3 linked regions of the Homo sapiens genome follow. The protein of the gene in region 1 purifies or fractionates together with the protein of each later gene. This does not show direct contact. Each region holds a gene or a part of one and is shown in the gene's direction. Other genes may lie near its edges.

Region 1 (3,500 bases):
CAAGGTGAGGGCGGCCTCGTGTGCGTGGGCTCAGGTGGTAAGTGCCGCTGGTCCGGGTCTGCAAAAACAGTGCAGGCGTCTGTGACCCCAGCGCTGTCGTGGCAGCGTCGGGAAGGAGTTGGAGGTGAGCTGGGTGTGACAGGCAGGGGAGGCACAGCGGGCACCAGCACCCGAGTCAGGGTCGTGAGCCGAGGACATGGCTGCGGATTCCCTGGGGCTGGGGTCTGCATCCTTTGTGGCTGCCTGGATGGTGGCGGGGGTGGGCAGCGTCAGCCTGGCTTGGCCCCAGGAGGAGGTGCTGCTTATGTTGTGTGTATCTGGTAAGCTGTGCCTTGTGCTTGCTGAGTGTGAGGGGTGTGAAGAGGGAGGGTGCTGCCGGGCTGGGTACAGGGAGCATCAGTGTGGGCGCTGGGCTTGAGGAGACACAGGATTGGAAGTTTCTGTTGGGTGCTGGTCCTCGGAGGAGCCCAGGTTGGAGGCTGCTGAGGAGGAGACGGGAGTGGGGAGTAGCCCTGGCTAGCAGGGGTGCAATTCAGGGGAGGGATGTCTAAGCAGAGGCGGAGAGTTCCTGGTCTCCCGAGTTCAGAGGTCACGGTGGGGGCGGAAGCCAGCATGGCCTGGGTAAAGAGACGCGAGCAGGGAGAGGCAACAGGCGTCCCCTCTGGAAGCAGACTTTGGAGGAGAGTGGACATGGAGGGTCAAGTGTTTACCCATCTGAATTAGAGGCTCCAATGGGAAAAGGATTCGTGCCAGTGAGGGCTATGGAGATGGTACGCTCAGAAAGCCACCAAGCTCATGTCCGAGTGGTGTCTTTTCAGGTGGACAGTGTTGCTGAGGGGGCGCAGGAAGGAATGTTCTGAGGAGCGCCCTAATTGTTCAGAGCAGCCCCTGAAGCCGTCAAGCCAGAGTGTGCCTGGGCAGCCCTGGGCCCCGCGCCTCAGCTCACACAGCCCTGGGGGAGCATCTGCACCCAGTGCTGCTGTACCTGGCCTGGCTTCAGGGGGGTAGAAAGGGGAGCAGAGGGCTGGGTCCCTCCACAGTTGAGGATTTGCAAGGCAAGGAGGCCAGGAGTGCAGGAGGGTGCAGGAGGCCCCAACCAGCTGAAGAAAGCAGAGCAACCCAGGAGCTGGCAGCCTCGGTGAGGCTGGAGAAGCCCAGGCTGGGGGCTGGGAAGGCCCTGGGTGGACAGAAGCTGGCCCCAGGCTGGGCCTAGGGGAGCGCTCCAGGGGGTCTCCACAACCTGTGTGGGCATCTGGGTGGAGGCTTCTCATCCAAACCGTACACATGGAGTTTTTCCCTAGGTGGGTGTTCAAGTTTGGCCAGAAACCATCGTTTTTATGTCCGTTTAAGCCACACTGGGCACTTAGTAGAAATGGGTTGATGTCAGTTCAATTAAAGAGTGAGTAACCTCTGCTGGGCCCTTGCTGCTCATCTGTCCACAGGATGGCCGGCTCCTGCCAGAGTTCAACATGGCGGAGCCTCCCTTGATCTTCGAATGCAACCACGCGTGCTCCTGCTGGAGGAACTGCCGAAATCGCGTCGTACAGAATGGTCTCAGGTGAGAGGCAGCTTCCTGCCGGAGCCCCACATTCTGCTCGTATTAGCACGTATTAGCACGGAGGTCACCCCGACAGACAAGAACTTAACGTGTTTGGATGCACGCACATGTGTGTTTGCAGATAGAGCCGACAAGTTACCTGAGCCCTTTATCCTCTAGAAATGTCACTTGTGCCATAAATCACGAGTCATGCTTCCCCCAGCACAGACTTCGGCATGAGAGAAGGAGCAGGTTGTTGGGTCAGTCCAGCTAAAAGCAGAGGAACGGACTTGGCCTAAGAATTACCTTTGTTACCGAGTTCATGCGAACATTCTTCAACAGGTTAGGGCTGTCGTAGTTCTATTTTAATACTCCAGTCATTTTCTAAATATTCTCTGTTCTCTGGGCTTCCCTAACAGTGAGGTGATGTCCCAACGCTTCTCAGGCTGCGTGGACTCCTTGTTCCTGGGTTGCTCAGGACGCTCATGGAGTAAGGCTTGCCCAGCGCCCTTCCCCAGCTGGGCTTGGTCCCCTGACCGCCCAGCAGCTGCGTCTCCTTTCCCTGGATTCTGGTCTTGAGCATTTCCTCCGCAAATGTGCCCGAGATTGGAGAAGTCAAAGCTCCTCTGAGTCATAAGGGAAAGTTATGCACACTTAAATTTAGCTGAACACTCATTTTTATAGTATTGACTTTTTTGTGACCTCGATAAACTTGGTTCATGGTGAAAGGCAGTCTCTGTCCTTGGTATGGTAGAAAGGCCTGGTGGTGAGGACCCACGCCAGACAGACGCGAGGCAGACACGGGACACATGCCAGATGGGCAGACGCGAGGCACGTGGTTCTGAGGGCTCCTCAGAGGCCCACATGCCAGGACCGCCCAGCCGCCCTCCTCCAGATCTACCCGGCCACCCTCCCCCAGGCCTGCCCAACCACCTTCCCCCAGCCCTGAGAAACCCTCGACCGCCACCTCCCCTGCCACCCTCCCCCAGCCCTGAGGGGCCTGTGGGCTCCTTGTCGGGAGCAGGCTGGGCTGCAGGTGTCACCACAGCCTGGTCCAGCTATAGGCTTCTCTAGTATTAGCACCTCTGCCCCTCACAGTGCCTAGTGGCCCAGGCCCAGCTCTGTCCCCATGTTACAGATGGGGACACCGAGCCACGGCCAGGACCAGTGACTTGCCGAGGTTGTGGGCTGGGGTGCTCCTGGCTGATCCCCGGGTTCTTGGCTCCCTGAGAGTGCGAGATGCCGTGTCTGTGAGGTGCCTGCAGCATCGAACGCTTCGGATACAGAACCAGTTTTCTTCCTCATTTCAGTGACGTGGCACCAGCTGGCTTTTGCTGACCATTGTGGCAACAGGCTGAGGCTGTGGCCTGGGTTCACCACTACTCTCTATTTTTCAGGGCAAGGCTGCAGCTCTACCGGACGCGGGACATGGGCTGGGGCGTGCGGTCCCTGCAGGACATCCCACCAGGCACCTTTGTCTGCGAGTGAGTGAGTCCCTGGGTCACCCCAAGCCTGGTGTCATTTCTGGGACGGAGGCCCATCTGTGTCTGTACTTCAGGAAGCCCCTCTGGGAGCAGGCACATCCCTGGCGTACAGCAGCGTGGGGTGGGGGCCACAGAGACCCTGGCCCCGAGAACCAAGCTCGTGCTGTCCTCAGTCCTCTTGCTGCTGCCCGTAACCAGCCCAGGAGTGCATTTAAGAAGGCGTGGTCCAGTTAGGAAGGCGTGGTCCAGTTAGGAAGGCGTGGTCCAGCATGGGCAGTCATCTCTAGGGGAGGACCATTCTGGGTTCTCAGGTACCAGACCGCAGACGCAGAGCTTTCGGTATCGTTATCATCATCCTCCGGACCCTCAGCTGAAACCCCAGTTCAACCCTGGGCACACCTCTCTAAACATGTTCCCTGCATGTTCTTCTGGTGTGCCCTGCTCTTTCCCTGTGGCTGCGGAGTCTGGGCTGTGCTTGT
Region 2 (4,808 bases), on another chromosome or scaffold:
AGTTTTTTTGTGTGTTTTTAGTAGAGACAGGGTTTCATCATGTTGGTCAGGCTGATCTCGAACTCCTGACCTCAGGTGATCCACCTGCCTCGGCCTCCCAAAGTGTTGGGATTACAGGCGTGAGCCACTGCGCCCGGCCTGGATATGCTTTTTAGTTCAGGTGTGGCTGACCCTCTCAATCTGTCATTTAGGTAGTTCAGTAAAATACTGTTCTAGGGAATGTGGTAGAGTCAGGGAGGGAGGACAGCAAGATGAAACCAGGAACACCTGTTTGAAAACAGCTGCTTTCCCGCAAGCTCCCACCAGGCTGTTCTAAGACGAGATGGAAAGGCACTTACCATTCTGTCACATCCCAAGCAAGGCGACTGTTCTGGTTTTGTTGGATTGTTAGTTTAACATCTGTGGTGATCAGAGTCAGTTCTGTGTCTCTGTGTAATTAATTAAATGGCTTTAGGACTGTGTTAGTAATTAATTGGCTTTGGGAGTTTTTTTTTTTTTTTTTTTTGAGACAGTCTCACTGTTATCTAGGCTGGAGTGCAGTGGCACAATCTTGGCTCACTGCAACCTCTGCCTCCCAGGTTCAAGCGATTCTCCTGCCTCAGCCTCACAAGTAGCTGGGATTACAGGCGCCTGCCACCACCCCCGGCTAATTTTTGTATTTTTAGTAGAGATGGGGTTTCGCCTTGTCAGCCAGGCTGGTCTCAAACTCCTGAGCTCAGGCAATCTGCCTGCCTCGGCCTCCCAAAGTGCTAGGATTACAGGCGTGAGCCACCGCGCCCGGGCTATTTGGGCATGAATTCTAAACTGGGATATGAAAGAATTCAGCAATGGCAAAGTTCCTCATGGAGGTGTGCCATGCTCAGAAGTGCAGTGTGCCCTCCCACTGGCCCCTCTTCAGTGGGCCCTGAGTAGCTGCTCGTGTTTGATCTCCCTGTAAGAAAGGCAGTAGCTGAAAAGCACCTAAGCTGCCAACACTGTGGAAACCCCCGCAATGCTCCCTTTCTTCACAGTGACATACTTGTTGTAATACCCATAGTAGCCTCTGAAACGCTCCAGCAGTGCCGGTCGGGGTAAGATCCCGCGTCGGTACCCAGCTTGGCAGCTCCTCTGGTTTGACATCTGTGTGTTTTCTCCCATTCCCTGCTGTGACTGATGCTGCTTTGGAGTCCTGGTGTCTGCAGTGCCGGGCTGCTGGAGGGTGCTGGGGAGGGAGCATACCGGGAGTGTCATTAATGAATGGCCTTGTGATTTGTGCTTGCTTGTTTGGTGGGAATAGATTGATTCTTGTTTTCTGCCTGTGCTTAAATGGGATAAAACTATATGGAAAAAGTAAACCAGGCTGGGCGCGGTCGCTCACACATGTTGTAATCCCAGCACTTTGGGAGACCGAGGCAGGTGGATCATTTGGGGTCAGGAGTTTGAGATCAGCCTGGCCAATATAGTGAGACCTCATCTCTACTAAAAATACAAAAATTAGCTGGGCATGGTGGTGCGCTCCTATAATCCTAGCTACTCAGGAGGCTGAGGTGGAGAATCGCTGTAACCTGGGAGGTGGAAGTTGCACTGAGCCAAGATTGGGCCATTGCACTCCAGCCTGGGCAACAGAGTGAGAGTCTGTCTCAAAAAAAAAAAAAAAAAGTAAACCTTTTTACCATACTTTAAAACAATCTAGAAACTATTACAAAATAAAACAGAAATCTAAAGTTTTTTTTTGCAGGAGGAGGAAAAGAGACCTGGTTGAGTTCAGTGCCATGATACCCAGAGTGCATGAAGGGATGTGTGTGTGTGTGTGTGTGTGTGTGTGTGTGTGTGTGTGTGCGCGCGCACGCTGATTTGTAGAGGGAAAAGTGGGGAGCAGGAGCGCCACCTGGGGGTGGCTACCTGCTGTCTGCCCTGAGGTTGCACATGGCAGCCCCCATTTTCCAAAGTCCCTTGGTCTTGGAGGCCCAGAAACCTGCTGTTGTCAGCACGTGGAGAGTGTTCATCCATCAGGGCCAATGGCATGTTAACCAAGCTCCCAGACTAATGTGTGCGAATAGGATTCCGGTTAACTTAGCATGGGAATGCAGGCTGGGTGCGGTGGCTCACGCCTGTAATCCCAGCACTTTGGGAGGCTGAGGTGGGCAGATCACCTGAGGTCAGGGGTTCGAGACCAGCCTGACCAACATGGAGAAACCTCGTCTCTACTAAAAATACAAAATTAGCTGGGTGTGGTGGTGCATACCTGTAGTCCCAGCTATTCGGGAGGCTGAGGCAGGAGAATCGCCTGAACCCGGGAGGCGAAGGTTGTGGTGAGCCAAGATTGCACCATTGCACTCCAGCCTGGGCAATAAGAGTGAAACACCATCTCAAAAAAAAAAAAAAAAAAGAAAGAAAAACAAAGAATGGGAATGCGTATGTCCTCACAACCTCATTCATTCACTGTCCTGCTGTGCACATTCCTAAAAGGGAAGCTAAGGGATGGTCAGAAGGTTACGTGGTAATCGTAGAGTCAGAATGTGGGGAGTTATTGGACTTAGACAATGGGTGACCTCAGGCTAAAGTACCTGATATCTATAATGGTATTAATAGCTGACACTTACATGGGGCTTACTATCTGCCAGCCATTGTGTTGTAAGTGTGTTATATACATTGGCCAATTTAATCCTCACAACAGCCTGTGAGGTAGATATATTGTTATCCTCATTTTTGAGACAGGGTCTTGCTCTGTCACTGAGGCTAGAGTGCAGTGGCAAGATCAGGACTCACTGCAGCCTCCACCTCCCGGGCTCAAGTGATCCTCCCACCTCAGCCTCCTGCGTAGTGGGACCAGAGGTGTGTGCCACCACACCTGGCTAATTTTTTTGATTTTTAGTAGAGACAAGGTCTTGCTCTCTTGCCCAGGCTGGTCTTGAGCTCCTGGGCTAAAACAACCCTTCCATCTCAGCCTCCCAAAGTGCTGGCATTACAGGCGTGAGCCACCCCACCCTGCCTATTATCCCCATTTACAGGTGAGGAAACTGAGACATCAAGATGCTAAGTGACTTGCTGAAGGTTTCTGAGCTAGGAACATTTGCCAACCCTTGCACTGAGGGTTCTTTGCTGTTTTGTTTTTCTATTCAGCTATTTATAGGTTATGCCTTCAGATTTATTAATGTAGCCAGTCATTTTGCAGTGGCATTTGCTGGCCTAGGGACCCTTCTGTTTAAGGTGATTTTGTATAGCTCTGATCTGTTATGAATTTGATTTTGGAGTTTTAGCTCAGAAGGCAATTTGCCTACTTTCCCTGTTGAAATGCTTGGAAGTAAATCATCCTGGCCATAGTGTCCACTGAACAACATAAATGTTGTTTTAATACCCTAAAAATCCTGACATGCAGCTAATTTTTTTGTATTTTTAGTAGAGACAGTTAGCCAGGATGGTCCTGGGAGGCAGAGGTTGCAGTGAGCCAAGATTGCGCCACTGCACTCCAGCCTGGGCGACAGGGTGAGACTCCGTCTCAAAAAAAAAAAAAAAAATGAAAATAAAAATCCTAATATGAAGGAGTGTGGGTGAAGCGTGGATCACTGTTACTGAATCACCCTGCAGATGCTGTCATCCTATTGTGGAAGGTGAATGATAACAAGGAGCCGGAGCAGATCGCTTTTCAGGATGAGGACGAGGCCCAGCTGAACAAGGAGAACTGGACGGTTGTGAAGACTCTGCGGTAACTTGGGAGGGACCATGGCAGTGATCTCTGTTTACGATGAGTGCATTAAATGGAATATACCTTTTGACTTTTTTTTTCTTTTCTTTTGAGATAGGGTCTCATTGTCGCCCAGGCTGGAGTGCTGTACTGTGATCACAGTACCCTGCAGCCTTGACTTCCCGGGCTCAAGTGATCCTCTCACCTCCCAAATAGCTGGGACTACAGGTGCATGCTACCATGCCCTGCTGATTTTTAAATTTTTTTTTTTTTTTTTTTTTTTTTTTTTTAGTATTTATTGATCATTCTTGGGTGTTTCTCGGAGAGGGGGATTTGGCAGGGTCATAGGACAATAGTGGAGGGAAGGTCAGCAGATAAACAAGTGAACAAGGGTCTCTGGTTTTCCTAGGCAGAGGACCCAGTGGCCTTCCGCAGTGTTTGTGTCCCTGGGTACTTGAGATTAGGGAGTGGTGATGACTCTGAAGGAGCATGCTGCCTTCAAGCATCTGTTTAACAAAGCACATCTTGTACCGTCCTTAATCCATTTAACCCTGAGTTGACACAGCACATGTTTCAGAGAGCAGGGGGTTGGGGGTAAGGTTATAGATTAGCAGCATCCCAAGGCAGAAGAATTTTTCTTAGTACAGAACAAAATGGAGTCTCCTATGTCTACCTCTTTCTACACAGACACAGCAACAATCTGATTTCTCTATCTTTTCCCCACATTTCCCCTTTTTCTATTCGACAAAACCGCCATCGTCATCATGGCCCGTTCTCAGTGAGCTGTTGGGTACACCTCCCAGACGGGGTGGCGGCCGGGTAGAGGGGCTCCTCACTTCCCAGACAGGGCGGCCGGGCAGAGGCGCCCCCCACCTCCCGGACGGGGCAGCTGGCCGGGCGGGGGCTGCCCCCCACCTCCTGGACGGGGCAGCTGCCGGGCAGAGATGCTCCTCTCTTCCCAGACGGGGCGGCTGCTGGGCGGAGGGGCTCCTCTCTTCCCAGACGGGGCGGCTGCCGGGCGGAGGGGCTCCTCACTTCTCAGACGGGGCGGCCGGGCAGAGACGCTCCTCACCTCCCAGACAGGGCGGCGGGGCAGAGGCGCTCCCCACATCTCAGACGATGGGCGGCCGGGCAGAGACGCTAC
Region 3 (4,808 bases), on another chromosome or scaffold:
AGTTGATTCCCTGATTCTACTGTTTATTATGTGTTTGATTGTGAGCTAAATTTAGTTAACCTCTCTTATCTGTAAATTGCTCAGATCACATAGCTTTTATTTATTTTTATTTGTTGGAGCGGGAATGACTCGCCTCATGGTAGACCACCTGCCCACTTCCAAGATCCAACTACACATAGCTATTAGATGGTAGGTTCTAGGATTTAGGCACAGGTCTGCTAGACTCCAAAGCATCCGCTCTTAACCACCATGTCCTACTTTTGCCTTTAAGCTAAACCCACAGCTATTCACTTACTATTGACCTAAGTGACACTGGGGTCATTTCTTGCTCCTGAAGAAGTGTGTTGCTATTATTACTTTATTCTTCCAAGTGTTCTGTTAATGTAATTTAGATTAAATTTTACAGGTTTACTAATAGTATAGTATTATTTGTAAATTAAGAGGTAGACACTGTGAGCAATGCAAATATGTGAGCTATATTCCGTTTCTGGAGTTTACATTTCCACTGGCAGGACAAGATAGAGACATATAAAATGGTCAAGTTACAACACAGTAAATGATATAATTTTGTCAAAATCAGTGATTGACATTAAGTGTTACATATAATGAAAGAAGAGAGGGATTGTTGAGGCTTGACATAATTTGGAAAGTCTTCATAGAAGCAAAGCTTAGGGGCCGGGCGCTGTGGCTCACGCCTGTAATCCCAACACTTTGGGAGGCCGAGGCAGGCGGATCACCTGAGGTCAGGAGTTCGAGATCAGCCTGGCTAACGTGGTGAAACCCCATCTCTACTGAATATACAAAATGAGCTGGGAATGGTGGCATGCACCTGTAATCCCAGCTACTCAGGAAGCTGAGGCAGGAGAATGGCTTGAACCCAGGAGGCAGAGGTTGCAGTGAACCAGGACCACACCACTGCACTCCAGCGTGGGTGACAGAGTGAGACTTTGTCTCCCCCTAAAAAAAAAAAGAAAAGCTTGGATTTCTTCCCAAAGAATGGGTATGATTTATTATGTACATATATAGATTCTTTTGTATTCCTAACAAGAATACAATTTAACTATAGTATTTAACAAGAATACAGTGTAAATAGAGTATAGTATTTGTTGCAGTTATGAAGCATAAATTGTTTTTGATAGTTGAAATTAAGGATTATAGCCAAAAGTGTCCTAGACAAATGCAAATTGATTTCTAAAAATGAGAAAAGTATAATTGTATCATTAACCTGGACAATGACTAGTGAAGTTGTCACTTCTTACAGGGCTGCGGTGGCTTGTGTCGGAGCATTTTATGAAAAAATGGGGAGAATGTTGGGCAGCGCATTTCCAGAAACGGTAAATAATCTATTGAAATCTCTGAAAAGTGCAGAGGTAAGTTTTACAACCAATATTATTTGAATATTTGCTTGTGGCAAGAGTTAGATGTCAGCTAAAATATGTTTGTTTCTTTTTCTGTCACTGTGGTCTCATATTGCTTAGCAAGGAGGTAATTACAAATTATTACTTGTCCCTTCTTTTAATGTATATCAGGGGGAAGGGAAAGAATGCTTTTCTTTGACAAGGAATAGGTTTACTTGTTATTTTTTATTTAGTCCTATGGTACTTTTGGATTGGCTTTTTTTTTTTTCTTTTTTTTGGTGCCATAGCTAATGTGTTAATTTCCTGGTTACTGTAATAAATTACCTTAGACTGGGTGGCTTAAAACAACAACAATTTATTGTCTCACAGTTCTGGAAGCTGGAGGTCTGCGATAAAGTGTCAGCAAGGCCATGTTTCCACTGAAGGATCTAGGGAAGAATGTTTCCTTTCCTTCTTACCTTCTAGTGGTTGCTGGAAATCTTTGATCTTCCCTGGCTTGTAGATGCATCTCTCCCATCTCTGTCTCCTTTGTCACATCACCTTTTTCCTGTCCCTTTGTGTTTTGTGTCTAAATTATTTCCCTGTTCAGTGATACCAGTCATTGGATTAGAATTGGATACCTTTTCTGGGAACTATTTGTCTATTCATTCATTAAAAAAGAATTGAGGACTTATTATTTGTCAGGCATTAAACATACAAAGATGGTCCTGACCTCAAAGAACTTACAGTTTAGTGGAAGAGAGCTAAGTGTGAATAAGCATTGTGATACACTGTGATGAGTATACTATCAGAAATAACAATAAGCACTATGAGAATATGGATATAACAGTTTGAGTTAGTCACAAGAAGATGAAGGTTTGCTGTATTTCTGACATGTTTTTTTAAATGTGTTGGATGTTTTCTGCTTCCTTTTTTGGATCATTTATATATTATTTCTCAACTTTTTTACTTAATATTTTACGTTCTGAAATATTTTATATATTGAGATATGATATTGAAGCTTTTGAATCTCTTCATGTTTTCATTATATTGTATGTACTTCAGTAATTCATAGAAATATTGGAATATATTTACTTAAAACCTAATTTTTTAGAAAGATATTATTTAATTGACTATTCTTACTTGCCAGGTACTTTCTAGAATACTTAATTTTATTGTACTTTTCATTATTTACCGTTTATAATTTGGAGGTAAGACCATTAGACCCAAAGAACTTTTGTCTTGGTGTGTTCTTGTTTAAATATGGAATTTATTTTACAAAATAGTTTTGTTTTGTATACATGTCTAGTCTCAAGGGCGAAGTGAAATCTTAATGAGTCTACAGAAAGTTCTAAGTGGACTGGGTGGTGCAGCAGCTTCCTCCCATCGTGATATTTACAAGAATGCCAGGTCTCTCTTGACTGATAGGTCAATGGCTGTTCGATGTGCAGTGGCCAAGGTTAGTACTCGACCAATTTAGAATACTGCTCTTTATCCTTCTTGCTCTTAAACAGTCAACGATTTTTTTTTCTTTTAAAATTTTAAATTATGTTTTGTGTTCCAATGGATTAGTTTCATTTTCTAGAATTATATATAATAGTATCACATCATGAGATGTACTTTTGTGTATGTGTATTCTGGCTTCTTTCACTTAGTATAATTGTTTTGAAATTCATTTATGTTGTTATATGTATCCATAGTTCATTCCTTTTTATTGCTGAGTAGTATTTCATTGTATGGATATGTCACATTGATTTGTTCACTCACCTGTTATAAACATTTGAGTTGCTTCTAGTTTTGATTATTACAAAAAAACTGCTGTGAACATCTGTATATAAGTTTTTGCACAAACATATGCTTTCATTTCACTTCCGCAAATAACCTAGGGATGGAATAGCTGGTTCATAGGGCAGATTTAGTTTAACGTTCAGAAAAGTACAAAACTGTTTTCCAAAGTACTCGTGCCATTCTGCATTTCTACTAGCAGTGTATGAGAATTTCTCTTCCTTCATATCATCACCATTGTTTGTTACTGACAGTCTTTTTAATTTAAGCCATTCTAATGGATACATATGTCATTGTATCTCATATCTCAATGGTATCTCATTGTGGCTTTAATTTGCATTTCCGTGATGACTAATGATAAGCATATTTTCAGGTGCTTATTTGCCATCCATATCTTCTTCGAAGAAGGATGTGCTCAATCTTTTGTCCATTGTTTTATTGGGTTGTTTTATAATTATTGACTTTTGAGAGTGTTTTATAGGTTTTTTACATATTCCTTTATCAGATATGTGATTTACAAATATTTTTCCCAATGGGTGGCCTGTCTCTTTATTCTCTAAACAGTGCCTTGTAAGGAAAAGAGATTTTGAATTTCATCCAGTGTATCAATTTTTCTTATATGGATTGTGCTTTTGGTGTTGTATCTAAGGAAACATTTCGTAAACCAGGGTTTGTCCTGTGTTTCCTTCTAGAAGTTTTATAGTTTTATACTTAGATATGTGATCCATTTTGAGTTAATTTTTGTATATGTTGCAAGGTTTGAATCAAAATTTTTTGTTTTTTTTTTCAATATGGATATCCACTTCTTCCAGTACCATTTCTTTTTTTTTTTTTTTTGAGATGGAGTCTTGCTCTGTCCCCAGGCTGGAGTGCAGTGGTGCGATCTCTACTCACTGCAAACTCCGCCTCCCGGGTTCACACCATTCTCCTGCCTCAGCCTCCCAAGTAGCTGGGACTACAGGCGTCCGCCACCATGCCCAGCTAATTTTTTTTGTATTTTTAGTAGAGATGGGGTTTCACCGTGTTAGCCAGGATGGTCTCGATCTCCTGACCTCGTGATCCGCCCACCTCGGCCTCCCAAACTACTGGGATTACAGGCGTGAGCCACCACACCCGGCCCCTCCAGTACCATTTCGAAAAGCCTATCTTTTCTTCACTAAACTCCGTTTACACCCTTTGTTGAAAATCAGTTGTGTGTATATGTGTAGGTATAATTTTGGACTCTCTGTGCTGTTTCATTGATCCATTTGTCTATCTTGATGCCAACAACACTTTTCTTCATTACAGTTCCTTTGTAATAAGTGTTGAAATCAGGTGCTGTTAGCCCTCCAACTTTGTTCTTTTTCAAAATTGTTTTGCCCAGTCTAGGTTTGTCAATGTCTGCAAAAATACCATGTTGGGATTTTGATTCAGGTTGCATTGAATTTGGAGAGAATTGCCATCCTAATAATATTAAGTCTTCCACCCTATGGACATGATATATCTCTCCATTTATTTTGGTCTTTCATATCTCTTAGCAACATCTTGTAGTGTTAAATGTACAAATATTGACAGAATACAAATAAGACTGGGGAAATATGACTAAAATCATGAATTCTATCAATGTCAACGTCCAGGCTGGGCGTGGTTGCTCATGCCTGTAATCCCAGCACTTTGGGAGGCTGAGACGGGTGGATCACCTGAGGT

What was found.
Region 2: the proteins of EHMT1 (region 1) and CHAF1B purify together in Homo sapiens (affinity purification with mass spectrometry, with the first as the bait; one large-scale study listed by BioGRID). This does not show direct contact.
Region 3: the proteins of EHMT1 (region 1) and HEATR5B fractionate together in Homo sapiens (co-fractionation; one large-scale study listed by BioGRID). This does not show direct contact.

Annotation. Positions count from the first base shown.
Region 1 is NC_000009.12:137,814,505-137,818,004, forward strand, and holds part of EHMT1 (histone-lysine N-methyltransferase EHMT1), read left to right. Parts: coding exon 1-4; intron 5-1,442; coding exon 1,443-1,558; intron 1,559-2,934; coding exon 2,935-3,021; intron 3,022-3,500. UniProt on the Homo sapiens protein: Histone methyltransferase that specifically mono- and dimethylates 'Lys-9' of histone H3 (H3K9me1 and H3K9me2, respectively) in euchromatin.
Region 2 is NC_000021.9:36,387,984-36,392,791, forward strand, and holds part of CHAF1B (chromatin assembly factor 1 subunit B), read left to right. Parts: intron 1-3,567; coding exon 3,568-3,685; intron 3,686-4,808. UniProt on the Homo sapiens protein: Acts as a component of the histone chaperone complex chromatin assembly factor 1 (CAF-1), which assembles histone octamers onto DNA during replication and repair.
Region 3 is NC_000002.12:37,073,473-37,078,280, reverse strand, and holds part of HEATR5B (HEAT repeat-containing protein 5B), read left to right. Parts: intron 1-1,261; coding exon 1,262-1,370; intron 1,371-2,646; coding exon 2,647-2,796; intron 2,797-4,808.